Linked DNA regions of Homo sapiens. The protein of the gene in region 1 interacts with the protein of each later gene in a pairwise test. Each region holds a gene or a part of one and is shown in the gene's direction. Other genes may lie near its edges.

Region 1 (3,952 bases):
CAGGAGGGCTCCACACGCAGGGCCGTACTTGTCCCCGCTGTCCCCCACTGTCCTTCCTCAGAGGCTGAGCATGAGGGGAGGCCCAGGGCAGCCTCCTGCATTTCTTTCTGGTGGGTGGAGATGAGGCATGTTTGCTTGTTCAGCCCTCACGTGTAACTTTGAGCTTGATGAGAGCTGTCCTCTGAAAGCTGCCCAGCCTCGAGGCGTCGCTGTGGGTCCCGCCTAAGGGCGTGCTGTGTGCTGGGCTGCCCTGAGCCGCCCTCCGAGCTCGTGGGGCGGTGACAGCTCACAGGGCGGTTAAACCTTCAGCACATGAAACTGCCTGAGGACCTGCATGCCCCGCCCGGAGACCGTGTGGATCACTGTCTGGGCGTCGGCACCTGGCCCGGCCCCCTTCTTGGGGTGGCAGAGCGTGGGATGCCTTTTCTCCCGGCCTGCTCCTCCTTGTCCCCGTGTCTCCTCTCCCCTTGGTGTCTGCGTGGGTCTGTGTCACCCCGGCGGGCTTTGTGGCCTCACTAGGCGGTTGGCGGCGCCCACCCGGGCTTCAGAAGTCTCCGCCTCCGTGTCGTGTTCCATAGGAACAGCTGCGACTTGTTCCCATGTCCGGTGTTGGTTGAAATGCATTTGAGAGCTGCGGGGCGGGGGAGGCTGAGCTAGGGAACTCCCCACTGTCTCTTGTGGACTCTCTCTGGGGACCGCGCCCCTCCCCGGCCGCATTCATCCTCACTTCCTGGACACCCCTCTCCACAGGAAAAGTGCAAGGAGCTGAGTGGCGTGGCTGTGGTTGGATTTGTTTAGAGAGAGGTCCCCCCGTGCCAGTGCTGTGTGGTGCCCTCACAGGAGTCCTGCACAACAAGGAGTCACCCAGCGCGGTTCCTGGTGGGCAGAACCGGCGTCCTCCGCGCCGCTGTGCATCCCGGGGCCTTGTTGGGCCTGCTGGGGTTCCTCTTTCACCCGTCCGTCTGCCCATCCGTCTTTCCCCTGACTGGGGGCGTGGCTTTTGATGTGGTCGGTCCAGTGGTCGTTTTCTTCGTGGTTTCAGGGTTGGGTCACACTTAGCAGGACGGTGTGTTGGAAGGTCACGGAGGTCCTCGCCCGGCTCACTCCTTCCACCTCTCGGGCTGCTTTGAGTCAACCGAGGTCCACCTTGGGATAAAGAGTTAAATGCTTAATCGTTGGACCGTGGCCTGTTCCGCCGTGTTTGGAAAGCCGCTTGTATGGTGTGTGGTGTGTTGGCTGCGGCGCTCTCTGTGACCACCCCCGGTGTGTTCCACACAGGAAACAAAAGGAGCTGGAAGAGCTGGAGCGAGAGAGGAAAAGAGAAGAGAAGCTTCGCAAGAGGGAGCAGAAGCAGAGGGACCGTGAGCTGCGCCGGAATCAGAAGAAGCTGGAGAAGCTGCAGGCGGAGGAGCAGAAGCAGCTGCAGGAGAAGATCAAGCTGGAGGAGCGCAAGCTGCTGCTGGCCCAGAGGAACCTGCAGTCCATCCGGCTCATCGCCGAGCTGCTCAGCAGAGCCAAGGTACCCGGGGGCTCCCTCTGCAGCCGCCAGCCGCGCCCGGGCTGCCCTCAGTGCCCTCCCCTGAAATGCGGGCGGCGTCACGGCGCCGTTTCCCCGCCGGCTGCAGCTGTAGCTACGAAACCAGCTTTAATGCCGAGGATGACGGCTCCTTCCCGGGAGGGTGTAGCGCTCGTCTGTCGTTCCCGATGATTTCAGAGCTGTGACGGTTTCCTTTTGCAAAGCTGGTGCATTCAGGTTCCCCGAGCAGGCTGGCAGCCTCCCGGGGGCCAGGGCAGAGGCTCTCTGTTTCCTTTGGGTCGGGGCAGTGGCAGAGAGTGCAGGGGGCCGCTCCCTCTGGCCCGCGCCTCTGTGTGTGGTCAGCTGGCCTGGCTGTGACCTCACCAGTGGCCCAGAGCAGAGGGGCAAGGTGGGCTGGGGGGAGGGCTGAGCGCACAGAGGGGGCCTGCCGTGGGCCCGGGTCCCTCCTCCGCAGCGTGAACCTGACAGGTCTCACCAGCGCCGGTACTGACGACCCCCTCAGCACCAAGAGCCTCCCTGCTCCTCCTGCAGGCGCGACTGGTAACTCCCATGAGCCCGGGGCCAGGGCCCACAGACAGACAGACCTCCCCAGGACAGACGTCCCCGGCACGCTCCTTGTCCTCAGGAGGGCTGCGTCCCCCTGGAGTCCAACGCGGGGCGACCCCATAACCTGTTGTCTGATTACAGTTGTGATAAGTCCCCGGGAAGGAGCATGACAAGAGGCTGAGACATGTGGCAGCCCAGTCCTTACCTCATGGTGAATATTGAAGACACTAACCCAGGCTAGGCCAGGCTCGCCCCGCAGCTACGGCGGTGGCATGCGTCTGCGGCGTCATCTCAGCTCCCTGTTGCTGGCGGCCGCTTGTGACCTAACCGCAGGCGCCTGTGTGCAACGTGGTGGGGCTCCCGGCAGGGCTCGGCTCTGCCCAAGAGGCCCGCCCTGGGGCTGCGCCGAGCCGCTTTGCCAAGGGGTTTCCTTCTCACTCAGACGCATGATGGCCCCAGGTGTGGCCGCGGGAGCCGAGGGATGGACGGGCTGGACCTGGCTCGCCGTAGGAGACGCCCCCCACCCCTGGGCTGGAGTCCAGCCAGGCCGCTGATCCTGCATCCCCAGACCATGGGGCCTCCAAACACCTTCCCAGCTCCTGTCCCACGTGTCCGGCCAGGCTCAGGAACCGGGCTCAGCTGCACTTTCCTCTTCCCCGCAGGCTGTGAAGCTACGGGAACAGGAGCAGAAGGAGGAGAAGCTGAGGCTCCAGCAGCAGGAGGAGCGGCGGCGGCTGCAGGAGGCCGAGCTGCGGCGCGTGGAGGAGGAGAAGGAGCGCGCGCTGGGCCTGCAGCGGAAAGAGCGGGAGCTGCGCGAGCGGCTGCTGAGCATCCTGCTGAGCAAGAAGCCGGACGACAGCCACACACACGACGAGCTGGGCGTGGCACACGCCGACCTGCTGCAGCCCGTCCTGGACATCCTGCAGACCGTGTCGTCCGGCTGTGTGAGCGCCACCACGCTGCACCCCCTCGGGGGCCAGCCCCCGGCCGGTGCCCCCAAGGAGAGCCCGGCCCACCCAGAGGCCGACGGCGCTCCCAAAAGCGTGAACGGGAGCGTGGCCGAGGAGGCCCCATGCAAGGAGGTTCAGAGCTCCTGTCGTGTGGTCCCCGAGGATGGCTCTCCAGAGAAGAGGTGCCCGGGCGGCGTCCTCTCCTGCATTCCTGACAACAACCAACAGCCCAAGGGCATCCCTGCCTGCGAGCAGAATGTCTCCAGAAAGGACACCCGGTCAGAACAGGACAAGTGCAACCGGGAGCCCAGCAAGGGCCGGGGCCGGGCCACCGGAGACGGGCTTGCTGACCGGCACAAGCGGGAGAGGAGCCGGGCCAGGCGGGCCAGCAGCAGGGAGGACGGGAGGCCACGCAAGGAGCGGCGGCCCCACAAGAAGCACGCCTACAAGGATGACAGCCCCCGCCGGCGCAGCACGAGCCCGGACCACACCCGGTCCCGGAGGTCCCACAGCAAAGACAGGCACCGGAGGGAGCGGAGCCGGGAGCGGAGGGGCAGCGCCAGCAGGAAGCACAGCCGCCACCGCCGCCGAAGCGAGCGGTCGCGCTCCCGGTCCCCGAGCAGGCACCGCAGTACCTGGAACAGGTAATGACGGGCACGGCCTCCCCACGGCCTGTCCGGGAAAGACCAGGACCTGCTCGAGCCTCCTGGCCGCTCCTTGGCCGCTCTCCGTCCACCCCTGCAAAGCCAAGACCCTTCTGCAGCCACGAATGTCCACGGAGCCCGCCGGCAGGAAGGAAGACACCATGCTTTAGAGATCCATCTTTCTCCACTCACCGCAGCGTACTTGGCACTTCAGTTTCAAACACGTAGTCCTTTAAAACTTGATCCGATAGCTTTAATGCGGCCGGTCCTCTCTC
Region 2 (3,952 bases), on another chromosome or scaffold:
TGGCTATTTGTAATAAAGCAGTGCAGGGTTTGGGGAGCATTTCCTAAGCATGAGACAGGATATGAATAAAAGAGAATGTGATTCACTACCTCTGAAAGATTGCTGCTGGCTTATCCTGCATAATTCCATCAAATTGTTCAGTAATTTACTTCTCTGTTTCAGGATTTAGGATTATTTTTGTTTTTGTCAGCTTTTTTTTAAAAAAAAAACCATTAAAGATAATGGCATAAAAACAAACTTAGTACATTGTGATTTTTATTCTTTTGGATTCTTTCCTTAGAATATGTTCTCAGGAGTTGAATTAATTGTTCAGGGTGTAGAATCACAGAGTTTTCCTGTTAGTGCCTTAGTTCTTCCTTTGAAGTACATGTTATATTCATCCCCCTTTCCCGCTTTTTTTCCATTGTCACAATCTTGATCCAAACATTCATTTTAAACCTGTGTTTGATTCTTTCTTGGCCCTTGCTCAGCTTTTTACATTATACTGTGAGACAAATTTGAAAATATATTCATTGTAAGACTTACTAAAATCTACGGAAATTCTTGGTTGCTTTCTAAAGCTTTCCATAGAAATTCAAATTCATTAGATGATTCCAGAATTGTGTTTTCTGTATTCATTCCTTGAAGACATTTATAGGCCACTGTGCAAGGTGCTGGGGATACCTAGGTGAGCAAAAGAGTCTTACAGCACCAAAGATTAATGAAGTCCTCTTTAGGAAAGCTATGCTTAAGCTAAGAAGTGAAAGATGAGTTACCTGAGTAATGGATTAAACACTCTTCTTTCTGTTTGTGGAGAAGTAATTAGGAGAGGTGGCGGCAAGAGTGGAAATAAAACCAATTTATACAGCATTATCTGAAGTGCTTGAAATTAGTAGAATGACGGAAACATACATATCATTCCATTGATTCCACTATCTCAGGTATTCAGTGAAAATGGTATGCTTCAGTTTTTTCACGATAGGGAGCTAGTGTATTTTCCATTTATACAGAGTTAATGAGCTAGATTTATATTGTATGGGTTCATAGAACATACCAATGTCTTTGTTGTCAGCAGACTATTTTGCTGCCTCTTAAAATAATTTTATTTACATACTTTTGAAAAATTAACTACTAGAGTTATAGTTCACTTTCTAATTTTACTATATTTTTGAGCTTTCCATATTTGTCATATTACTTTTCAGTTTTTTCCTATGTAAATTATTTCCAATTTAGATCCCACGTATGTTTAAAAATATTTTTATTAACTTCCAAGTATTTTGAAGTTTTCACTAGTACAAAGTATAATGAAGAAAAGATGCTATATTAGTGTGGGTTTTTTTCAGAAAGTGAAATTTTAAAAATATTTTTTTAAATATGATAGGCAAATTTTAAGTTACAAGTCCTAATTTTTATAAAATATTTTTATTATAAATCTATTTAATATTTTGCTGATGAATGAAGTCCCTAAGTCTGGAAATCACCGGCCTTATTGTACTGATACTGCTCTGGAGTATGTGACCAGTTAGATTGTATTACTCTTGATCAACACATACCTCTTTAATTTTCAATGGGAGACTTTTTCAAAATATGTCAACTCACTTTTCCTAAAACTAGCTCATTTTCTTTAATTCCAGTCTCTCCTTTAAGCTTATGTCAGAGACCTGCCAATTGAATTGTATACATTGGTTGTGACATGAGAGAATAGTGGTTTGCTAATCTCAACTACTTTTTAATAGAATCATTTAATTTCAAAATTTACTGGCTACTTCAGAGAACCTGTGTGACTTTTACCTATGTGTTAAAACCAATTAAACCAGGGCCAAAGGATGGCCTTTATTGTGTTATTGTGTTTGTCTGTGTAATTAGGAATTTTCCAAGCTCTAATAAGGCCTGCTACATTTTAAAGTAGCAAAATTTCAGAATATCAGAAGATTTCAGACTATTTGCAGTTGGTAAACAGTGGAATTTAATGCTTGGTTGTTACTGAGCCCACCCTTCCCAGAAGAATTACGATTAACTGTAGAGGAAAGTCCTTTAAAACTTGGTTATAGCAGAAGTTTGAGATGTTTTCCACCAATACTTTCTATGAATTAAATAAGTCATGTAGGGCAATTTGGAATTGAAAAGAGCTAGAAGTACAGCCATATGACGTTACAACTAAGTTCTCTGTATTTTCTGTGGTGATTTCTAATATGCTTTCTAAAGACTAGTAATTTATTAGATGGGTAGGCAGCCATTGTTGATTAGATGTTTTTTGTTGTCTGGAGATTTGGGCATGATGTGTTTATTATTTAAATCAATTGTCATAGGGTAACAATTTGTGCCCTCTTTTTTAAGGATATGGTGGTGGTTTTAATGAAAGAGAAAATGTTGAATATATAGAAAGAGAAGAATCTGATGGTGAATATGATGAGGTAAGCTATATTTTGGTGTTCAGGTTGAATATAAATTAGAAAAACAGAAAAAATTCTTAAATGCAAAGGAAAACAAACTTTTTTTTAAGTGCAATTTGAGTCTTCAGCAACTGATCATTTTCAGGAAATCATAAATATCTAAAATAATTTTTTAGAAAATGTATTAAGTTTAATGCATTATCAGCTGACAAGCATTTTGAAATTGTTTTTCTCTAGTTTGGACGTAAAAAGAAAAAATACAGAGGGAAAGCAGTTGGTCCTGCATCTATATTAAAGGAAGTTGAAGATAAAGAATCAGAGGGAGAAGAAGAGGATGAGGATGAAGATCTTTCTAAATATAAGTTAGATGAGGTGAACAATTTTCTTGTCCTATTTCCCTTTTGTCTTATTGGAGTTATACCATAACATGAATGCTTTTGACAGCCTCAGACACTTGGTGAAAATATATTCTGTGTTTTCATTTGTTCTCACAAAGGTTTTGGATTTCCACTCTGCCAAGTACTATTTGTACTTGGAACACTACTGTTCTGGAGATACAGTGGTGACCGAAACAGAACCAGTTTTCTCTTACACAGTTCTAGAGGAGGAAATATATAAATAGGTAATTTTGATAGCAGTAACGTTATGAAGACACATGATGTGATAACAGTTTAAAAGCAACTTTGGTTTTGCCGATGGATAATGTCTAAGGAGGTGAAGTTTGAGCTGAAACTTGAATGATAGGAAGGAGCCAGCAATAAGAGCCGAGGTGAGAGCACATTTAGGCAGAGAACAGCAAATACGGGTTCCCTAAATAGGAGATAAGCCAGCAGCCTTCAAAAATACCATACATAGGCCAGTATAGTTAGAGCAGAGGGGAGAATGAGATGAGGGGGACAGCACACATTTCAGGTCTGGTGATACTTGTTCTGTCAGGCCAGAGTGTAAGTTTTATGCCATGTTAAGGGTACCTTAGAGCCTGATCATAAGAGGTCTTGGAATGCAACTAAAGAAATAATAAGCCAGTTTTGAAGTTTTTAAGAAAAAAGTGAGATGTGTTTATCTGTCCTGTGTTTCAGAGTGATGACTGTCAGTATATTGAGATACTAGAGAGGCAGAATGGATCTTCAGATTTGAGGAGACCAGCTAAGAGGTTACTATAATATGCTAGAGAATAAGGAACAGAGTGTCTAAGACTAAAAATGGTGATTTCAAGGACTTTTAAGGAGGTGGACTTGAAAATTCTTGGGTGATGCATAAGTGTGACAGAAAAAGTGTGTATGGCCTCCAGGTTTATGTCTGTGCAATACCTGAGACAAAGTTGTCAAGTCTCTATTTGAGATGAGTTTAGTAGGTGAATTTTAGAATTCAGAATTAATTTGCTGAGATACCTGTGATATATGCATATGGAGGTGCTCAGTACACCTAACTGTTTTATCTTTCCTGGTAGGTAACACTAATATCTAAATGTCTAATTATAATTGAATTTTTGTTAGGATGAGGATGAAGATGACGCTGATCTCTCAAAATATAATCTTGATGCCAGTGAAGAAGAAGATAGTAATAAAAAGAAATCTAAT
Region 3 (3,952 bases), on another chromosome or scaffold:
GAAGATTTTAATATAGTAAATCTAATATTTACTATTAAATATTACTGGGCATGTATGTTTTAAAATATTTCCTTGAAGCTGGGCATGGTGGTGCCTCTAGCCAGAGCAACAGATTAAGACACTGCCTCTAACAGCAACAACACAACAACAACAACAACAATAAAACATTTCTTGGGACACTGATACGCTGCTGGTTAAGAACCACTGAATAGATAAGTGTAATATAAATTCCCATATCTCAAACACACAAAAAATCTCTAGAAGAGCTGGAGATAGGTGCTGCTTCCTTTAAATTTCTCCTTTCCAATAATATTGGCCTGACTTTTACCTGTCTCTACCTCTGTGGTTGGGAAGTGGAAAGGACTATTATTTGCAGTATCTATCAGCATAAGAATAACACCTTTTCTTTGCCACCATCACTTATTCACTGCCATTCATAGGGTCATTAGAAATTTGCTATTGTGGACTCTTTTAATAAGTAGAGACTGACTCTTTCAGGACTCTGAGTCTCTTTGTTATCATTCTGGTGATTAGGTCAATACATCATTATTAAAAGCGGGGTTCTCTCAATTACAATAGCAAAAAATTCTAAACCTTTTTTTAAAGCTGAAGCTCTATTATGGACTGCCTCAGTATGTCAGTTAAGTACATAGAACTGTGGCATAATCAGGATAGCAGTTTTAAACACTGAAAACCATGAAGTTAGTAAGAATACAAAGAATACATATAGGTCATTATTAGAGCTTTAATTGATAAGCCATTGTATTTTTATTTCTGATTTATATTTTACCTAAAATAAAAAAAATTAGGTTACAATATAGAAACTAGAATTATAATTTAATATTATTTTAATAATTTAGTTGCAGCAGTCCTATGAACTAATTATCCATTTGGTGAACAATCTGGGAAAATTAAACATAAATTATAAATGAATGAATGTTGTAAAAGTGCTCAAAGTGGGTATTATGACTCTTAGTAACAATTTTTATTGCATTCTTGGGCCTATTTTGGAAAAAAAATCTGAAACTAAAGAAAGGAAGTATTTTACATGAAAATACTTGCTTTACATACAATCGCTTGGAGACATATCCATAGCAAATATAAAAATACAAGGTATATAGTCCAAATGTGTCCCATACATGTGTTTAGTTTGCGTCTACAAATTGTCTCAACATGGAAGGTTTAGGAGACTCGTGCACAGATCTGGATTCCAAGCTTCTCTTCAAGAATCCAATCTGGTGTCCCTTGAGCCTATCTCAGGTTTTGGATGCTGTGCAGAGGTTGCCCCTTTCTATGAGGCATGTGGTCTCCATTTTGCTACTGTGCCTACCTAGGTACTTCACTTCCTCAGGTCATCTCCCTTGCCTCTGTAGGGATGACTTTACAAGCCCTGTTTTATAATATATTTTAGTAAATATTTCAAGGTTTTCAAGACATTTTATATTTATTTAAATGTAGAGTCTATATTTTATATAAATCCTTTGGTAATCGGGTTGAACTTTTGAATTTAGATGGTGGTGTTTTATAAACTATTTATACATACCATAAATAATCATCTTCCCATTAGAATGCATGTAAGCTTTTTAAGGTGAATCATGGTATAGTTGCATAGGTTATGCATATTGCAGACAACATTATATTTTTCTCTTCAGCATTGCCTCCTAAAAATGCAAGTAATTGGCCGAGCGCAGTGGCTCACGCCTGTAATCCTAGCACTTTGGGAGGCAGAGGCAGGTAGATCACGAGGTCAGAAGATTGAGACCATCCTGGCTAACACGGTGAAACCCCCTCTCTACTACAAATACAAAAAATTAGCTGGGTGTGGTGGCACACGCCTGTAGTCCCAGCTACTCGGGAGGCTGAGGCAGGAGAATTTCTCGTGCTTGAATCCGGGAGGCGGAGGTTGCAGTGAGCCGAGATGGCACCACTGCACTCCAGCCTGGGTGACAGAGCGAGACTCCATCTCAAATAAATAAATAAATAAATAAATAAATGATGCAAATAATTTAGTGGTTTTCATTATGCTATAAATAATTCATATAGGTCATTATTAGAGCTTTAATTGATAAGCCATTGTATTTTTATTTCTGATTGATATTTTACCTAAAATAAAATAAGTTAGGTAAGAATGAATTGGAAACTAGAATACAAATAGATTTTTAAAGGAGTTATGTACCAGGGTCCTAAGATTATAATTACATAAATATTTGCATCAGGGTCCTAAGATTGTAATTGAGAATAACATTTCATACAGAGCTTTCTGACAGCTAAGATAAAAATATTACTAGAGAAAACCCATGGACTATTTAATAATAAGCAGTGAAAGTTCACTCGAAGCCTATCTCTATTAATTCAGAGCCCGGCTCTCCGAATTAAAAAGAGATAGGCTTCAAATGAACTGTCAATCGTGTCAGAATCTCAGATGACAATGTCAGGTGCTCAGGTGCTCAGGAGCTCCTGACATTGTCACCTGAGATTCTCACACCATCGATAGAAGAGAATGAGGCAAGTGTGTATCACCCAGAGGAAACCTCTACCTTTACTGGTAAGCTCTCACAACTGTATCCCTGAAACTCTCATTTCTCAAATGTTAACATTCTCCAAAATAAGTATTTACAAATAGGGATTAGGTGAAGTTCAAAAGATTTCTCAAATACTAGACACATAATGCACAGTTTTGTAACATTTTTCAAACATGGGTGATCATGGAGTCTCTCTTTTGGGGTATAATGTTCAAATTCTGGTAAAGTAAATATCCTTTGGAATATATTAATAGTTTAAGAAACACCGCTCTATAGATAATAATTTAGATCATTAATAAAAATACCTGAAACATTTATTACTGTGTCTTAGAGTTTGAGGACATAGAGAAAAAAATACAGCTGCTGCCCTCAAGAAGCTCTTGGTTCAGGTGGGAAACAATTAAATCCTTGAAACATGCCATGCTAAATGCTGGGACAGAAGCAAAGATTCTTGGAACTGGGAAATGTTTGAAGTGAGTTTTGGAGATGACCAGAGTTCTTGTGGTGAGGCAGAGGAGGTTGTTTCCAGGGGAAGGAGCAGAACATAGAAAAGCACCGAGGAGGGAAAAGAAAGGGACTACCTCTTACGACCTTTCAATTGTATATATTGAAGCTCACAGGATCTTACATAAGGTTTTCATTTCAGTTGATAAATATGTAATTTTGTGATTATAAATTGTTGCTGTTATTTTACAGAATGAATATCAGCCACTGTTACTTGCTGTGAGTCGAAGAAAAGTGAAAATGGTGGAATTTTTATTAAAGAAAAAAGCAAATGTAAATGCCATTGATTATCTTGGCAGGTACAGACCTTAGTTCTTATTGTGTTGTTTTTAAACCTGAGTGTCATTTTAGAGTGGTAGCAGTCACTCAAGTCACAAATATTACATTAGTAAGAAGACTAACTTTTAATTACTGGGATATAGTGAGAAATATCAACACAGATCATCACTTAGGTAGAAAAACAATTATTTGGACTGAGTAACATAAAGAACAGTGTATAGCAGGATTCATCTCTCTCTATAGACATTATACACATAAAAGGCTTCTATATATAGAAAGCTCTGTATATTGATAGATGTTTGTTATTTGTAAGATGATGTGGTGTTATTTACAATGTAATAATGTGATGCTTTTGATTGTATGATCTTACATTAGCTAAAGGGGTTTCATGTTAGTTTTTCATTTCTACTGTGTTTTGATGTTGTTTTTAATTGATATGGGGAGGGGGAAAAAAGATAGCTTTAGATGGATAAAACTTTACTTCAATGAAGACAAGCTTTAGGTTCACACAGGACTGGGTTTAATCCCTAGCTTTCCCACTTGCTAGATGTGTGACCTTGGTAACATTACTTACCAAGTATGTTTTCTTCTGTGAAAAGGAGGGTAATAATATATCCTTCAAGGGTGGTTGTGTGTAAGTAACATTA
Region 4 (3,952 bases), on another chromosome or scaffold:
AAATGTTTATATTTTTTTCAATCCAAGTAAGAAGTGACGCATTTTGTGTTTCCAGATTTTTAAATATTGGCACTAATTCAGATTTTAAAAACAAAAGGCTGGGCATAGTGGCTCAGGCCTGTAATCCCAACACTTTGGGGGACCGAAGCGGGCAAATTGCTTGAGCCCAGGAGTTCAAGACCAGCCTGGGCAACATGCTGAAACCCTGTCTCTACAAAAAATACAAAAATTAACCAGGTGTGGCGGCATGCACCTATGTCCCAGCTACTTGGGAAGCTGAGGTGGGAGGATGGCTTCAGCCCAGGAGTTGGAGATTGCAGTGAGCCAAGATCGCGCCACTGTACTCCAGCTTTGGCAACAGAGTGAGACTCTGTCTCAAAATAATAATAATAATAAAACAGGACTGTGAGAGGCACATTTGGGACTTCTGGTCCTTGTTTCATCCAGGAAGGTGGGTGTTCTTAGGATACTAGAGCTTTACTTTACAAGGAGAAAAGTGGAAGCCCAGGTAGAATGTGTTGCTTCTGGCAATATTATTGAGCTAGCCTCCATGCTAGGGGTTAGAGGCTTCACAGCAAATGAGAAGCCCCTGTTCCTGCCATCTTGGAACTCCTAAGGAGGTAGACAGACAAGTAAAGAGGCAACCACAAGAGTGGTGAATACTCAACAGGAGTAGGACATGGAGCAGGGGCTAGGGGGAGCACAAATCAAAGCAGGCTTCCTGTAAGAGGAGCTCCCTGATCTGAGACTTGAAAATTATTAGGAGTTGGCCAAGCAAGGAGCAGGGAGAGGAGGGGTATTCCAGATAGAAGGAATAACACATGCAAAAGAGACAGGAGGGAATCACATGCAAGGACGTGGAAGTAGCTCATTGTGGCTGGAGTTGAAAGTAGCAGCTGAAAGGACGTAAGGCAAGAAATGAAGCTGGAGAGGTAGACTAGGGTTGCAAACAAATATCTATTGGGACTTGGCACCAGTGAGTACAATGGTCTGGGTGTAACAGCCAATAGAGGATGGTGGACTGGGTCACCCTGGAGTCTGCTGCTACTCAATTGTAGCTACTCTGCTATAGCCTAGGGTTGCCAAAGCTTCCTGTTTTTTGGGAGCAGTGGGAAATTCGATTATTAAATCCAGTACCTTGAGCTTTGTGTTTAAGCTGCTAATCTGAACGTTTACAGTACTCCACAAGGTCAAATAAAATCTATTTCCATCTGGCCCTGGGCCCACCAGTTCCAATCTCTGGTGGAATCGTGAAGGCCCTGTGAGCCTCTTTAAGGAGAGTACATTCCCAAGGCAGGGAAGCCACTGGCGGGCTTTCAGCCAGGGCATGACATCCCAAGTGTGTACACAAAGGGCCTGGTGGCTGCTGTCTGGAGAGCAGCAGGACGGCAGGAGGGGAGGCAGCAGTGTGTTTGGAGGGTGTTATGGCACCTGGAGAGGGCCAGGGAGATGATGGGGACCTGCACAACACGGGATGTGGGAGAGATGGGATTTGATGACAGACAAGAAGGGATAGTGGGGGCGGGGCCAAGGATGACACAGGGGTCAAGGCAGCAGGTGCAGAGGGAGGAGAAGGAGCAGTGATGGATGAGTATGTCCTCGGCGTGCCTGTGGTCACTCAGGGAGGTGCCCAGCGGATCTGATCCTGGGAAGCCTGGAGTCACATCGCTCAGGCACAGGACCCTCAGTTTCCTGTGCCACCAGCGGGCATTCCTTTATCATGTGTACCCATCACATGTGAGTTCAGTGGGGTGAATAGGACACACCTTTACCCCTCAGAACTGCAGTCAGGACAAGTGGCGAGTTCAAGCAAGAGGCTGGCCCGGTGCTGTCCCGGAGCTGTCCCGGAGGGCAGGGTCCTGGGTGGGAGGGGCAGTGACCGTATTGCCTGGGAGCCAGGGGAGGCGTGTCCCACAGGAACCGAGGGTGACAAGGAGGTTGGGCAGGGGCTCCAGTTGGAGTGGACTGCCTCAGCGAAGCCTGGAGGTGTGACAGAGCCAGTGGTTAGTGAGTAAAGGGAAGGAACCCAGAAAGGCAGACTGCTCCTTCCCCACATTTCGTCAGGAAGGGAATAAAACATTTCTTAAGAGGTCATCATTCCTTTCACTTTCTCGGGGCACCTTGCTCAGAGGTCCTGCTGATTCTCCCTGGGACAATGAGAAGGTGTTTAGTAAATAAGTGCTCATGGTGCCTCTCCACCCCCCATTCCCTCCTCCCTCTGGAGCAGTGCCCTGTTGAGTGTCTAAGTTCTGCTACAGTTTGTGTGAGAGTCTTTATAAATTTCCTACTGGTCTTACTTCATTGTGGCCAAGATTAAAAGTTGACAGTGAGGCTGGAGATGAGTGGAATACAGTAGAGTTCAAATATCGACAGGGGATTAGGGGTGGAGTTCGGGGAGGCATTCTAAGTGCCCTGCTGCCTTTCTGTTTGAATATTAAGTTCCAACCCGCTTGCTGTTGCGGATGTCTGTGCCTCCTTTCAAGGGGGCATCAGCTGCATCCTTATCCTTCCCCACCCTCTGCACTCTGCAGGGTGTTCTGAGAATCAGCCATGTCATCCCTGTACCCATCTCTAGAGGACCTAAAAGTGGACCAAGCCATTCAGGTAAGTCGCCAGGCCCCATTGGCCTGGATTCCCTGAAGGGGACCTTGGGGATTACCCTGGAAGGTGCTGGGTACTGGGGCCACTTGGAGATTCCCGTAGGCCTCAGGGCATGTAGGTGTCCACTGCAGGGCCTGCTGGGCAGAGAAGACATCCAGGGGGCAATGCCAATGGCGTTACAGCAAGAATAGAAAAGACCAAGCAGCGCACGCATGCCTCTCTCATGCCTGCTCTGTCCTGCCCAGGCCCAGCTCTCCCTCCCTCCAGGATGGGCGGGCTCCATGCTCTAAGGCAGGCTTTCAGAGGAAACAAGACTAGTGGGCATAGGCATTGGTCTGCTTAGCCCCCAGAAGCCCCCTTCCTCCTCCATCCCAGCACTCTGTGGTTCCAGTGGGTTTTGAGAAATGGAGACTTTTCAGCTGAGAACTTGATTGGGAGATGGGCCTTGATGTTCTGCCTGTTGCAGGCAGTAAATGGGTTGTGACATAGGGTGGGTCACAGTCCCCCAGAACTTCCTCCCAGGAAAAGACACATCTGCGGAGGCCACGTTTACGTGATCTTGAGCCCTGAGGGTTGGTGCACACTCCCCCCACACCCCGGGCCCACTCACACCCCTAATGCCCAGACCCTGGCCTCATGGAGCTCCAGGCTCTGGGGTTCCTGGGGTCCTGGCCACAGCTGACCAGTGCTCCCTGCTCCTCCCCAGGCCCAGGTCAGAGCCTCACCCAAGATGCCAGCCCTGCCAGTCCAGGCAACAGCCATTTCCCCACCACCAGGTGAGTGGGCTGGGATGAGGGGCTCCTGGGTGCCAAGTCCTTTCAGGGAAGAGATCATCAGGGAAGCTTGGCAATGCCAAAGGTATGGGAGGCTCCAGGGTTAAGGACTCAACATGGTGGGAAGAGAGGACCAGGCTTCCAGTTGCCACCCACCTCTTACTGCCTGGGTGACCTGGGCTGAGTCACCTCACCTCCCAGAGCCTGTGCCCATGCTGTTCCCCTCCCTCCTTGACTGCCTGGTGAACCCCTGTTTATCCTTCCAAACCCAGCTCAAGTTAGGGAAGCTATGGCTTCTCTGATGCCCCCAGCAAGGCTGCCTTGAGGATGTGATATCATTTGTGGGGCCTCTGTCTATATAAACGATTTGAGTCACCTCAAATCAGCATTTCAGCACCATTCTGGTGATCCAATCTCATGTGACCCCGGGAATGAAATACCACACTTGTCAGACTTCCTTGCTGGAACTATGGCTGGCCTGGGGTGGGGGCAGGTGGGGAAGAAGTGGACGGCAGATAGCGGCTCAAAGAGAGAAGGGGCCAGAACCCCACTTGCCTTATTCAGCTTAGGCTTCCATA
Region 5 (4,604 bases), on another chromosome or scaffold:
AGATTTTCTAGGAGTACCACTTCTCCCACCCTCTACATAGTGGCAGCGGAGAGTGCTATGTCGTACAAAGAAAAGGGACTGTCATAAAGATCTCTTACTAGCAGAGTCAGGCTCTAGCATATCGTACATGGAAGAGAGACTGTGAAACATAAATTTGAAATTCCCTTCCCTTTTTCTTTCTAATCCCCCCAGTTTACCAAATTCTTAACTTGGAAGAGTAAAATTACCACAATAAATGTAAACTCTCACTATCCCCGTTTACCTGGGCCTAATGGACATCCCAGTTGATTAGAAAATAAATTCTTTCGTTATTATCTGCCTTTAATTCAAATTTAGCCTATTCATATTTGTCAGACTGATGCTAAGAGAACTAGAAGCCCCTTTTTCCCAGTACGCAGATACAAATGTGCAATCTTTGTCTCTCTGTGCAGCACACAGAAAATTACTGGTAAAAAATATGAATACAGGTTATTTTTTTCTTTTTGAGACGGTATGGCTCTGTCACCCAGGCTGGAGTGCAGTGGAATGATCTCAGCTCACCGCAGCCTTGACCTCCCAGGCTCGAGCAGTCCTTCCACCTCAGTCTCAGCCTCCTGAGTACCTGGGCACATACCACCATGCCCAGCTAATTTTTGTGTCTTTTGTAGAGACAGGGTTTTGCCGTGTTGCCCAGGCTAGTCTCGAACTCTTGGACTTAAGTAGTCCCTCGGACAGTGGCCTCCCAAGTGCTGGGATTACAGGCATGAGCCGTGGGCACATTTACTCTATAGTATGTATTTTACCTGAATCTTTTGGTGAACTCAGTATAAAAAGTTAAACGTTAATGAATGAGGGCCAGGCACAGTGGCTCACGCATGTAATTCGAGCACTTTGGGAGGCCAAGGCGGGCAGATCACAAGGTCAAGAAATCGAATCCATCCTGGCCAACATGGTGAAAGCCCATCTCTACTAAAAGTACAAAACTTAGCTGGGCGTGGTGGCGCACGCCTGAGTCCCAGCTACTTGGGAGGCTGAGGCAGGAGAATCGCTTGAACCTGGGAGGCGGAGACGCAGTGAGCCGAGATTGCACCACTGCACTCCAGCCTAACAACAGAGCAAGACGGCATCTCAAAAAAATTTTTAAAAAATTAATAAATGAGATAAATAGATAACTAGAGCTAATCTTTAATCCAATAGGATAATACAATTGTAACATCTTTAATACCAATGTAAGATATTTCCTAAGCTGGAAAGTTTGGGTGCCTTTATTTATTTAAAAAATCAGGACAGATAATTGAATTATGCCTTCTTCTTAGGTTTCCTCTTACTCGACCCAGTCTTTGTAAAGAATGGGAGGCAGCTGTCAGAAGAAAAAACTTTAAACCCACCAAGTATAGCAGTATTTGTTCAGAGCACTTTACTCCAGACTGCTTTAAGAGAGAGTGCAACAACAAGTTACTGAAAGAGAATGCTGTGCCCACAATATTTCTTTGTACTGAGCCACATGACAAGGTAATATGCATTTTAAAATATTGGGTTGCTTTTTGTTTATCAAACTGATGTGTTCATTGATTAAAATGTGGAAAATTGAGTTAGTGTTAAGAGAATAAATGTGCCTGGAACCTTGTAGTTAACAGTGATACACTTCTGAAAACACAAAATGCAGTTTATTAAAGATAAATATCCTCACACTAAGAAACTTAGTCCAGCTTTGTAACTTAGTTAAAAACCACTCTGTACTGCCAGTTATATATTGATAAGTTTTGGGTTTTCTTTATCAGTGACAGTTTAGTTTCAAAGCATTTTTTTCTCCTCAGTGCTTAATATTTAATTAGATCTGATGATTCATTTTGTCTCTTTCCTGCACCGTCCCTCTACTTCAGGTAGAAAAGTTTATTCAAACTGAAACTGTTTTCTCATTTTGGAATGTTTCTATACCACTGATTCCCAAAAAAAGTCAGTATTTCTTAAATTCCACAGATTCTTTTATTATTTATTTATTTATTTATTTTTTGGAGACAAAGTCTTTGTTGCCCAGGCTGGAGTGCAGTGACATGATCTTGGCTCACTGCAACCTCCGCCTCCCAGTTTCAAGCAATTCTCTTGCCTCAGCCGCCCAAGTAGCTGGGATTATAGGCGTGCACCACCACATCTGGCTAATTTTTGTATTTTTAGCAGAGACAGGGTTTCACCATGTTGGCCAGGCTGGTCTCAAACTCCTGACCTCAGGTGATCCGCCCACCTCTTCCTCACAAAAGTACTAGGATTATAGGCATGAGCCACTGCGCCTGGTCAGTCCACAGATTCTTTTAAACTGTTTTTAGTTACTAAATTCAAACATACTTTGTATTTTTGTTTTAGAAAGAAGATCTTCTGGAGCCACAGGAACAGCTTCCCCCACCTCCTTTACCGCCTCCTGTTTCCCAGGTTGATGCTGCTATTGGATTACTAATGCCGCCTCTTCAGACCCCTGTTAATCTCTCAGTTTTCTGTGACCACAACTATACTGTGGAGGATACAATGCACCAGCGGAAAAGGATTCATCAGCTAGAACAGCAAGTTGAAAAACTCAGAAAGAAGCTCAAGACCGCACAGCAGCGATGCAGAAGGCAAGAACGGCAGCTTGAAAAATTAAAGGAGGTTGTTCACTTCCAGAAAGAGAAAGACGACGTATCAGAAAGAGGTTATGTGATTCTACCAAATGACTACTTTGAAATAGTTGAAGTACCAGCATAAAAAAATGAAATGTGTATTGATTTCTAATGGGGCAATACCACATATCCTCCTCTAGCCTGTAAAGGAGTTTCATTTAAAAAAATAACATTTGATTACTTATATAAAAACAGTTCAGAATATTTTTTTAAAAAAAATTCTATATATACTGTAAAATTATAAATTTTTTTGTTTGTAATTTCAGGTTTTTTACATTTTAACAAAATATTTTAAAAGTTATAAACTAACCTCAGACCTCTAATGTAAGTTGGTTTCAAGATTGGGGATTTTGGGGTTTTTTTTTAGTATTTATAGAAATAATGTAAAAATAAAAAGTAAAGAGAATGAGAACAGTGTGGTAAAAGGGTGATTTCAGTTTAAAACTTAAAATTAGTACTGTTTTATTGAGAGAATTTAGTTATATTTTAAATCAGAAGTATGGGTCAGATCATGGGACATAACTTCTTAGAATATATATATACATATGTACATATTCTCATATGTAAAGTCACAAGGTTCATTTATCTTTCTGAATCAGTTATCAAAGATAAATTGGCAAGTCAGTACTTAAGAAAAAAGATTTGATTATCATCACAGCAGAAAAAAGTCATTGCATATCTGATCAATAACTTCAGATTCTAAGAGTGGATTTTTTTTTTTTACATGGGCTCCTATTTTTTCCCCTACTGTCTTGCATTATAAAATTAGAAGTGTATTTTCAGTGGAAGAAACATTTTTCAATAAATAAAGTAAGGCATTGTCATCAATGAAGTAATTAAAACTGGGACCTGATCTATGATACGCTTTTTTCTTTCATTACACCCTAGCTGAAGGACATCCAGTTCCCCAGCTGTAGTTATGTATCTGCCTTCAAGTCTCTGACAAATGTGCTGTGTTAGTAGAGTTTGATTTGTATCATATGATAATCTTGCACTTGACTGAGTTGGGACAAGGCTTCACATAAAAAATTATTTCTTCACTTTTAACACAAGTTAGAAATTATATCCCATTTAGTTAAGTGCGTGATTTATATTCAGAACAACCTACTATGTAGCGTTTATTTTACTGAATGTGGAGATTTAAACACTGAGGTTTCTGTTCAAACTGTGAGTTCTGTTCTTTGTGAGAAATTTTACATATATTGGAAGTGAAAATATGTTCTGAGTAAACAAATATTGCTATGGGAGTTATCTTTTTAGATTTAGAATAACTGTTCCAATGATAATTATTACTTTTATATTTCAAAGTACACTAAGATCGTTGAAGAGCAATAGAACCTTTAAGACAGTATTAAAGGTGTGAAACAATGGCATTCAAAGTGTCTTTTGTAGAACTGGTTTTCATTGTAGTTCACTGCCATGCTGCCAGTGGATAGCACTGTGATTCATGCATATTTGATGTTTTATGAACCAGTATCTCAAAAATAGAAATAATGATTAGAAGATTACTTGAAGTTGGGCGGGGCGCCATGGCTCACGCCTGTAATCCCAGCACTTTGGGAGGCCGAGGCGGATGGATCACAAGGTCAGGAGTTCAAGACCAGCCTGGCCAATATGGTGAAACCCCGTCTCTACTAAAAATACAAAAACTAGCTGGGCATGGTGGCGAGTGCCTGTAGTCCCAGCTACTTGGGAGGCTGAGGCAGGAGAATTGCCTGAACCCGGGAGGTGGAGGTTGCAGTGAGCTGAGATTGCGCCACTACACTCCAGCCTGGGCAATAAAGCAAGACCCCGTCTCAAAAAAAAAAAAAAAAAAAAAAAAAGATTACTTGAAGTTACATAGTCTGATAACATCATTTAGAACTCATGCTGATCAGTCAGAAGGCTTTTACAGATTATTCATGGAACTCGAAGCTACAAAGTATTCAAGAAGTTTGGTTTTATATGTCATCTTTCTAGCAATTCCTGGAAGTA
Region 6 (3,952 bases), on another chromosome or scaffold:
CACTTACTTAAGGGTGAAAGTACCATGTTTCCAAAGCTGAGTTCTCAAGAGGAAAGAAGACAGAGGCATTGGCACAATATCAGCTGGGTTTGGGTGGCTTCCTCTAGAGGCAATCTGGGGACTTGGTCTCATCAGAAATGTCGTTTAGTTCCATGAGTCAAGCCCAGATCACAGTCGGCAAACCAGCACATGTAGCAGTCTGCAGGGGGATGGCAGGGAGTGGGTGGAGGAACCACTAGTCAGTCCTGTTGGTGTCACACTTAATATTTGTTTATAGATGAAGGCCACCCCTCTGAATAAACTTCCTCAGGATATTTTAAGTCTATCTCTCAAGGTAATTTAGTACCAGGATAGAAACATATATTCAATTCATTGATTTCATAGCAATATGCATACATCATGCAACTGCAATCTAAGCAACCCCCTGCTTAGTCTCTCTTTCTCCTCTACCCCTCTGTGGGGCATACTTGATGAGGCAATAGCTTTATAATGTATCAAATTGCAACCAGATGTCTGCCTCAAATGTCAGAACAGTAGAGCAGAGTGGGAAGCAGTATATCATAGTGGTTAAGAGCTCAGACTTGAGCATGAGACAACCTGGATTCCTGTCCTGGTTCTATCATTTACTAGCTGTGTATCCTGAACAAATAGTTTTACCACACTGAGCTTGAAAATAGAAATAATAACAGTAACCCCTCAGACAACAGGTTGTAAGGATTTAGTTAGGTAAAGCTCTACCCCTATGTGTGGTGCATGGTGTTGTTTAGTAGACATTGACTCTGGAACAAAGCTTATAGTGGCCAAAAGGAAAGCAACAACTCCTCATCATTGTGTTCTCCATGCCTACCCATTTCTCCCCCAAGTAATGCTGACCATTTTTATTGGGATTTCAACTCCTGATGGACAACTACATTCAGATGAAGTTAACACACATGAGGCAGGGTAGAGAGTGGTCCCATAATCCTCGTCTCTGAGAAGAGGCTAACTGCTTTCTGATCTGACTGTTTCAGTTAGGGGGTTGGGGATAATAAATAATTATCTGGATTCAGAATTGATTGGTATAACATTTCCATGGAGCATTCTGTTGGTTTGTATAGAGAAGACCAGGTACTGTCAGTCTAAAGAAAGCTCAAACTTCTTGAAAAATCACAATTTTAATCCCACGGTTTCATCAAATCTACAGTGACTATGTGATTTATAGTTTATATCAAAATGTCTTTAAAAATGAAAGAAGGTGTCATTAGTAATTACCTAGGATGGAAGATCTAACAGAGATCATCCCAGGCAAACCAGGATGTACAGTGGTCCTTGTCAAACTTTATCTACCAGCCGGAAGGGAACCAGCATGAATCGATAAGATATATGAATCTCTAAAGTGTAGAGAGCCACCTCCCTTTTATCCCCATCCAAGAAGGGTAGTCATTTTGCCTGGCATTAACTTAATTCTCTTTTTTAATTGCTTAGCCTAGAGAAGTTTGTACCTAAGAAGTTTCAGCTCGGTGAAAACCTAGTGCTTAAGGCTAGATCAAGCCACAATATGATTTCATATCACCATATCGACCAATAGTAGCAGCTAAAGGCTTAATGAACATGTAAAAATCATTTGAAATTTGCATATCAATTGTTTATGGATGCATGAGTGTTAGTAAAGGGCTAGAAAAGATATCCCCTTAAGTAGAACACACATTTTCCTTACAATTCTTTTAGCAAGCTATTAATTTTCTTCAAAAATCCTTTCTACGCAGAATAGACCAGAAGTAGACTTCAGCCCAGGCCCTGTCCAAAAGGCCATAAATTCCAAACTATTGGAGATTTTACTGCATAAAGGGAAATTGTAAGGCAGAAAAAAAAATGCCTTTGAACCATTTAATTCAAGACTCCCCTCGGTGCCAAGAGATCAGTTAGCAGTTTGTGCTGACTTGATCATCAGGAGCCAGGTGAGGGGCTGTTGAGAGGCGATTTTCTGGCAGCAGCCTGTGGTTAAGAGCCAATGCGCTGAGGGTCACAGAAAATGCTTGCCCTGGCGGTGAATGAGCGTTTTTCTCTAGGAAGGGAGCGTTATTGTGTGGGTCAAACCTTTCTCCTTTTGAAAGGTGAAATTTGTTGAATGGGATACAGGGGTTGGTTGCAGGGGGTCATTTCTGACATTCTGCTGTGTTCACCCGGCACACGTGCTATCTTAGAGAACGAGGTTGTGGTAGATGTTCAGTGAATGTTGGATGCATTAATTAGATGAATGTGCATGGTTCAAACCCAGCAACAGATTAGCTCTCTCCCCACCCCACCTCCAGTTCTGAGACGCTGAGGCTTCTGATCAATGCAACTTGAAAGACGCACACACTGCAAATAGACTTGACTCTCCCTGGTGTCAGAATGAAGTTCCCTAGATAGAGACATCTGTCTGTCTGGGCAAGTAGACATGTTAGCCAGTATGGGGGCAGGAGGTTGGACTAAATGCCACTTGGATGTGCTTTCTAGGCCTGTAAGTCTCCATTACCTCCACCACTGCTCCAGGCCACCAAAAAAAGGGAACATCCCTAAAACCCTAACTCCTTTAATAGGGAAGGAAGCCTGGGTCACATGCCTTCTTCTCCATGAACTCTTCAGGCATGCTGCAGAAGAGCAATACATTAAAAAAAAAATCTGTTTTTTTTATTTTTTATTTTTCAGAGTGGCTGGATTTACCTTCCCGTGAAGTGGAAGAATTCACAGGGGCTTAGCAAAACTAGAGCTCTTTAATTGCTTGTTCCTAAGACTTTCGCTGAAGTGTGAGAGAATATTTCTGAGGTGGAGGAAGTAGAATGATGAAGAGTTTGAGCTCTGAAGTCAAATCTATCCAGGCTCAAATCTTTCTTTGCTACGTGCAAGCTGCAGGACCCGCTAGTCACTTCACCTCTTTGTGCCTCAGCCTCCCCATCTGTGAAATACTCCTCTGTTGGGGTTGTAGTGAGGAGTGAATGAGATAATTTATATAAAGAGCATGGCACTGTGCCTGGTACAAACCCAGATCTCCATAAAGCAGATGCTCTTGTGTACTATGCCAGGGGCTACCCAACGAGATGCAGAGAGGGGGGATGCTAAAGCCCCTTACTACCTGGGCTGCGCTTGTTCAGTAGTGATGCTTGGGTTCTGTGGACTGGACTCCTGAGCAGCTCCAATGCTCTGTATTCACTTTTAAATGTGGCTTTGGTGCTCCCTAAAGAGCCACTGGAGATTGGTAGAGCTGTTTGAAACATTTGATGGACCTCAGGGGCACACTAATCAAAGGAAGTGTTTTATTTTATTGGTTGCAAATGCTTACGGGCTATGAGACTTGGCAAGCAGCTTGACCTTCTCAATCTCAGTTTTCTCATCCATAAAATGGGGCTAATAATAGCAGCTCCCTCCAAGAGCTGCTGTGAGGACTGGATGAGCTAATTTATGGAAAGTGCTACTTGGCACCCAGTCAGAGCTCCATCAGTGTTGGCTCTTGCTATTAATAATAAATGATAGGTTTTTTCGTTACTATTTGCCAGGCCCATTGGGGAGAAAAAAGTTGAATGTCCTCTAGTGAGGGCCTCAGAGTTTAGTAGAAAAGGTAGACACAACATAAGTACATATTTCATAAGGGAGACAGTCTTTTTAATTTTTAAAATTTGTTTTCACATAATAACTGTACATATTTGGGGGATACATAGTGGTGTTGTGATACATATAATGTACAGTGATCAGATCAGTGTAATTAACATATCCATCATCTTAAACATTTATAATTTCTTTTATTAGAAACATTCAGTATTTTTCTTCTAGCTATTTGAAACTGTAAAACATATTATTGTCTTAAGCATGATAATGTAGGGAGAAATAGAGACAGAGGAATGTAAAAAAAAAACAGCGAAGGGAGAGACCCTTAATGAAGCATGGAGTCCCTTGCTTATAGTCACACAGTTATTTTTAGTTATCCGATCTGCAA
Region 7 (3,952 bases), on another chromosome or scaffold:
GCAAAACAATGTAGCCTTTTGTGCATGTGTGTGAAGAAATTGGTTAAAATTCCTGAAAGTTACGGTGTGGTTATAGCTTATGTGGTTGTGATAGGATGGTCAGTTTTCACCAAAAGCTATGGACCTCTGAGGGCCCTGCTAGTGAAAAGGAAGAGAATTATGACCAGAATTATGGGAGGGCCAGAGTGGGGAGCTCTGCAGATATTCCTGGATTGATTGAGCCTGTCTTGAGTGGTGCAGGGAAGCTACTTGGGAGGAGGAGGCTCAGAGACAGCAGAGTGGGAGGGTAAAGGATGTCCTCAGGAAGGAGGTGACATTTGAGTGGGTTCTGGAAAGCTGTGCAAGAATTGGCCAAGTAAAGAAAGGGAGGGACAGGCACTCCAGGCAGGGAAGAAGCTCTGGTTAAAGGCATGGAGGGGTCGATAGAGCAGGCAGAAAAGAGGATTCCTGAGGTTAGGGAGGGGTGGGGACATTCCTGTAATTATCCGTGAGGGGAGATTTTGGGTCCAGGACCCATGGCTGCTTTCTTGGCTCCCTCAGTGGGGCCCAGAAACCACACAGGTAGCTGTGGGACATGGAGGTCTGCTTAGCAGTGCCTAGTAAGAAAGACTTGGTCTGCTACAGGCTGGGCATGGTGGATCACAAGGTCAGGAGTTCGAGACCAGCCTGGCCAACATGGTGAAACCCCGTTTCCACTAAAAATACAAAAAAATTAGCTAAGCACAGTGGCGGGTGCCTGTAATCCCAGCTACTCGGGAGGCTGAGGCAGGAGAATCGCTTGAACCTGGGAGGCAGAAGTTGTGGTGAGCCGAGATCATTCCACTGCACTCCTGCCTGAGCAACAGAGTGAGACTCCGTCTTAAAAAAAAAAAAAAAAAAAAAAGACTTGGCTACAAGGGAAGGAGCCTATACGAGGACAAAGGACATTGTCAAAGAGAATGGGGTAAATATTTTCATTTATTTATTATTATTATTTTGAGACAGAGTCTTGCTCTGTCGCCCAGGCTGGAGTGCAGTGGATGCAATATTGGCTCACTGCAACCTCTGCTGCCCGGGTTCAAGCGATTCTCCTGCCTCAGCCTCCCGAGTAGCTGGGACTACAGGTGCATGCCACCACGCCCAGCTACTTTTTGTGTTATTAGTAGAGACGGGGTTTCAGCATCTTGGCCAGGCTGGTCTTGAACTCCTGACCTCGTGATCCACGAGAATGGGGTAAATATTAAAGAGTCCTAAGTGTTTGAAATGCTTGTTTTCTGGTGCTGTAAAGAAATAGCATTTGAACGTAAATTCAATTTTTTTTAGCAAGGCCATATTTATACTTTCTGCAGAAAGGGTACACTCACCAGTTGTTTTGCCATGAGAATACATTGAATAAAGGAGACAGGGTTATTTATAACTTGATGTGTTTACTCTGCTGCTGTATCCAGTTTTTATTGGCTGGAACAGGACCTCACATTCTGTATTTGTCCCAATTGGCTAGCAACTTAGAACTTTTTTTTTTTTTTTTTTTTGGAGACAGAGTCTCACTCTGTCGCCCAGGCTGGAGTGCAGTGGCATGATCTCGGGGTCACTGCAAGCTCCACCTCCCGGGTTCACACCATTCTCCTGCCGCAGCCTCCCAAGTAGCTGGGACTACAGGTGCCCGCCACCACGCCTGGCTAATTTTTTTTGTATTTTTTAGTAGAGATGGGGTTTCTACGTGTTAGCCAGGATGGTCTCGATCTTCTGACCTTGTGATCCGCCCGCCTCAGCCTCCCAAAGTGCTGGGATTACAGGCATGCGCCACCACACCTGGCCAGAACTTTTGAAAAGAGGCAAAGGCAGAGGAGAATAAAGGAAGGAGGAAGTAACTTGTGGAATGCTGAAAAAGGTAAAAATAACCTTTAAATAAGGAAGAGGAACAGGCTATGATCTAATGCTTGCTTGGACTAATATAAGCATGCCAAGGTAAATATTTAGGCTAAATTGTGGGAGCTAAGAATATAAAGTACATTGATTTCTTTATTATGGCTAGCAGATATTTAAGAATGTTAGTACAGGTCTTTGAATAAATTTTGCTTTTAAGAGAAGTTACTATTTATTTCTAATTAGATGGGGAGGAAAGTCTTTGAAGAGGAACCTCTACTTTACTTTTTACATAAGCAACCTGGTGGCTGCTGGGGAAACCCTTAAAACACTGGGCAGTAGAACTCCACTGAGGTTAGTGTCAGCTCCCTTGAGGCCAAGAGCAGCTGCTCACTTGGGAGTTTTGGCTGCTGTCGCTTGGCCTCTGGGCCCTCCTGGGGCTGGTTCTGTGCTCCTTAGTCCGTGGGAAGTTACTAGACCCAGCTTCATTTCCAAAACATCTCAAGCTGCCATTTGATAAGAGTAGCATTGGAACACAGAATCAGGCTTATCCCTGTTGCCTAGCGAGGGCTTGGCTGGATGGTGGGTGTTCCTGGATCTTGTATGAATCTCTCCTGCAATATCTGGTCCTTTCAGAGTTTCCTGGGACAGATTGACCCTAGTAAGGCTAAGGAATTGGGATAGTAGTAGCATCTTCCGTCTCTGCGCAGTACTTTACATACATGATCTCATTTAGACCTTATAACAGCTCTGCAAGGCTGGTACTGGTGAGGAACTTGAGACTTAGTAGTGCAGTACTTGTCCCAGGTTGTCCAGTGCAAAGGATAGCAGGACAGGGCACAGGGAGAAGAGCACGGAAACACCAGTGGGAATACAAGGTGACAGGCTCTGTTGGGAAGCTCTTTTTTTTTTGGGGGGGGGTGAGATGGAGATTTACTCTTGTTGCCCAGGCTGGAGTGCAATGGCACAATCTCGGCTCACCGCATCCTCCACCTCCCAGGTTCAAGTGATTCTCCTGCCTCAGCCTCCCGAGTAGCTGGGATTACAGGCATGTGCCACCACGCCCAGCTAATTTTGTATTTTTAGTAGAGACGGGTTTCACCGTGTTGCCCAGGCTGATCTTGAACTCCTGACCTCTGGTGATCCGCCTGCCTCTGCCTCCCAAAGTGCTGGGATTACAGGCCTGAGCCACTGCGCCTGGCCAGCTCTGTCTCTTGATTAAGGTGGAGGATATTCTCAGCTTGTCTTTTGGGACCAGGCAGACCAGAAATGCTGGAGCATATTGGCAAACCAGCAGCCTAAGGATTTGGAAGAAAGGCTGGTCAGAGTGTCAGTTGCTTATCAACCAGCTGAGAGCCTGAACTTTCCGGAAGACATGGCTCTTGGGTAGCCACTGGGAACAGGCTTAAAACAGCTTTGGTTCTTTGAGTTCTTTGTGGGGAGTGATTGTCTGGTGTGAATCACAGTTGATAGTGCCCTGAAAGGTTCAAGGCCACATTTCCCAGGGGAAGATAAGCTTTCCACAATGTATAGAAACTCAGAAAACTCCAAGTTCTTTATGCTAAGAAACAAAAAGGGCTCAGAAAGGCTGAACACAAAGTCAAGGAAGAGAAATTGATAACTTTTGGTTAAAGGGAAGAGTTTCCAGCCTTTTGGCCAGGGCATCCACTACCAAGTCCAAATCCTGACTTGGCCTCAAGCTTTTGTAAAGGGATGCATCGTGTCCCTTTTGACCTGCTGATAGTTTTTTTGAGATGGAGTCTCACACTGTCACCCGGGCTAGAGTACAGTGACGCGATCTCGCCTCACTGCAACCTCTGCCTCCCAGGTTCAAGTGATTCTCCTGCCTCAGCCTCTGGAGTAGCTGGGATTACAGGTGCCTGCCACCACGCCCAGCTAACTTTTGTATTTTCAGTAGTGATGAGGCTTCACCATGTTGGCCAGGCTGACCTTGAACTCCTCACCTCATGATTCGCCCACCTCAGCCTCCGAAAGTGCTGGGATTACAGGTGTGAGCCACCATGCCCAGCCGACCTGCTGATAGTTTGATAAAACAGAAGTTTTACTTTCTGGAATTTCTACTCATTTTATGTTTTGGATGGTTTCT

Evidence for each region.
Region 2: the proteins of AKAP17A (region 1) and ZRANB2 interact in binary tests that used the Homo sapiens proteins (3 or more experiments, as listed by UniProt).
Region 3: the proteins of AKAP17A (region 1) and ANKRD36B interact in binary tests that used the Homo sapiens proteins (3 or more experiments, as listed by UniProt).
Region 4: the proteins of AKAP17A (region 1) and SDCBP2 interact in binary tests that used the Homo sapiens proteins (3 or more experiments, as listed by UniProt).
Region 5: the proteins of AKAP17A (region 1) and THAP1 interact in binary tests that used the Homo sapiens proteins (3 or more experiments, as listed by UniProt).
Region 6: the proteins of AKAP17A (region 1) and SRRM4 interact in binary tests that used the Homo sapiens proteins (3 or more experiments, as listed by UniProt).
Region 7: the proteins of AKAP17A (region 1) and RNF4 interact in binary tests that used the Homo sapiens proteins (3 or more experiments, as listed by UniProt).

Annotation. Positions count from the first base shown.
Region 1 is NC_000023.11:1,597,914-1,601,865, forward strand, and holds part of AKAP17A (A-kinase anchor protein 17A), read left to right. Parts: intron 1-1,278; coding exon 1,279-1,519; intron 1,520-2,224; exon of another isoform or gene 2,225-2,294; intron 2,295-2,745; coding exon 2,746-3,681; 3' UTR 3,682-3,952. UniProt on the Homo sapiens protein: Splice factor regulating alternative splice site selection for certain mRNA precursors. Mediates regulation of pre-mRNA splicing in a PKA-dependent manner.
Region 2 is NC_000001.11:71,070,913-71,074,864, reverse strand, and holds part of ZRANB2 (zinc finger Ran-binding domain-containing protein 2), read left to right. Parts: intron 1-2,316; coding exon 2,317-2,393; intron 2,394-2,609; coding exon 2,610-2,744; intron 2,745-3,868; coding exon 3,869-3,952. UniProt on the Homo sapiens protein: Splice factor required for alternative splicing of TRA2B/SFRS10 transcripts. Binds to ssRNA containing the consensus sequence 5'-AGGUAA-3'. May interfere with constitutive 5'-splice site selection.
Region 3 is NC_000002.12:97,579,835-97,583,786, reverse strand, and holds part of ANKRD36B (ankyrin repeat domain-containing protein 36B), read left to right. Parts: intron 1-3,218; coding exon 3,219-3,325; intron 3,326-3,952.
Region 4 is NC_000020.11:1,319,015-1,322,966, reverse strand, and holds part of SDCBP2 (syntenin-2), read left to right. Parts: intron 1-1,766; exon of another isoform or gene 1,767-2,531; 5' UTR 2,532-2,550; coding exon 2,551-2,604; intron 2,605-3,307; coding exon 3,308-3,377; intron 3,378-3,952.
Region 5 is NC_000008.11:42,836,073-42,840,676, reverse strand, and holds the end of THAP1 (THAP domain-containing protein 1), read left to right. Parts: intron 1-1,295; coding exon 1,296-1,491; intron 1,492-2,340; coding exon 2,341-2,715; 3' UTR 2,716-4,003; downstream 4,004-4,604. UniProt on the Homo sapiens protein: DNA-binding transcription regulator that regulates endothelial cell proliferation and G1/S cell-cycle progression.
Region 6 is NC_000012.12:118,984,267-118,988,218, forward strand, and holds part of SRRM4 (serine/arginine repetitive matrix protein 4), read left to right. Parts: intron 1-3,952. UniProt on the Homo sapiens protein: Splicing factor specifically required for neural cell differentiation.
Region 7 is NC_000004.12:2,492,883-2,496,834, forward strand, and holds part of RNF4 (E3 ubiquitin-protein ligase RNF4), read left to right. Parts: intron 1-3,952. UniProt on the Homo sapiens protein: E3 ubiquitin-protein ligase which binds polysumoylated chains covalently attached to proteins and mediates 'Lys-6'-, 'Lys-11'-, 'Lys-48'- and 'Lys-63'-linked polyubiquitination of those substrates and their subsequent targeting to the proteasome for degradation.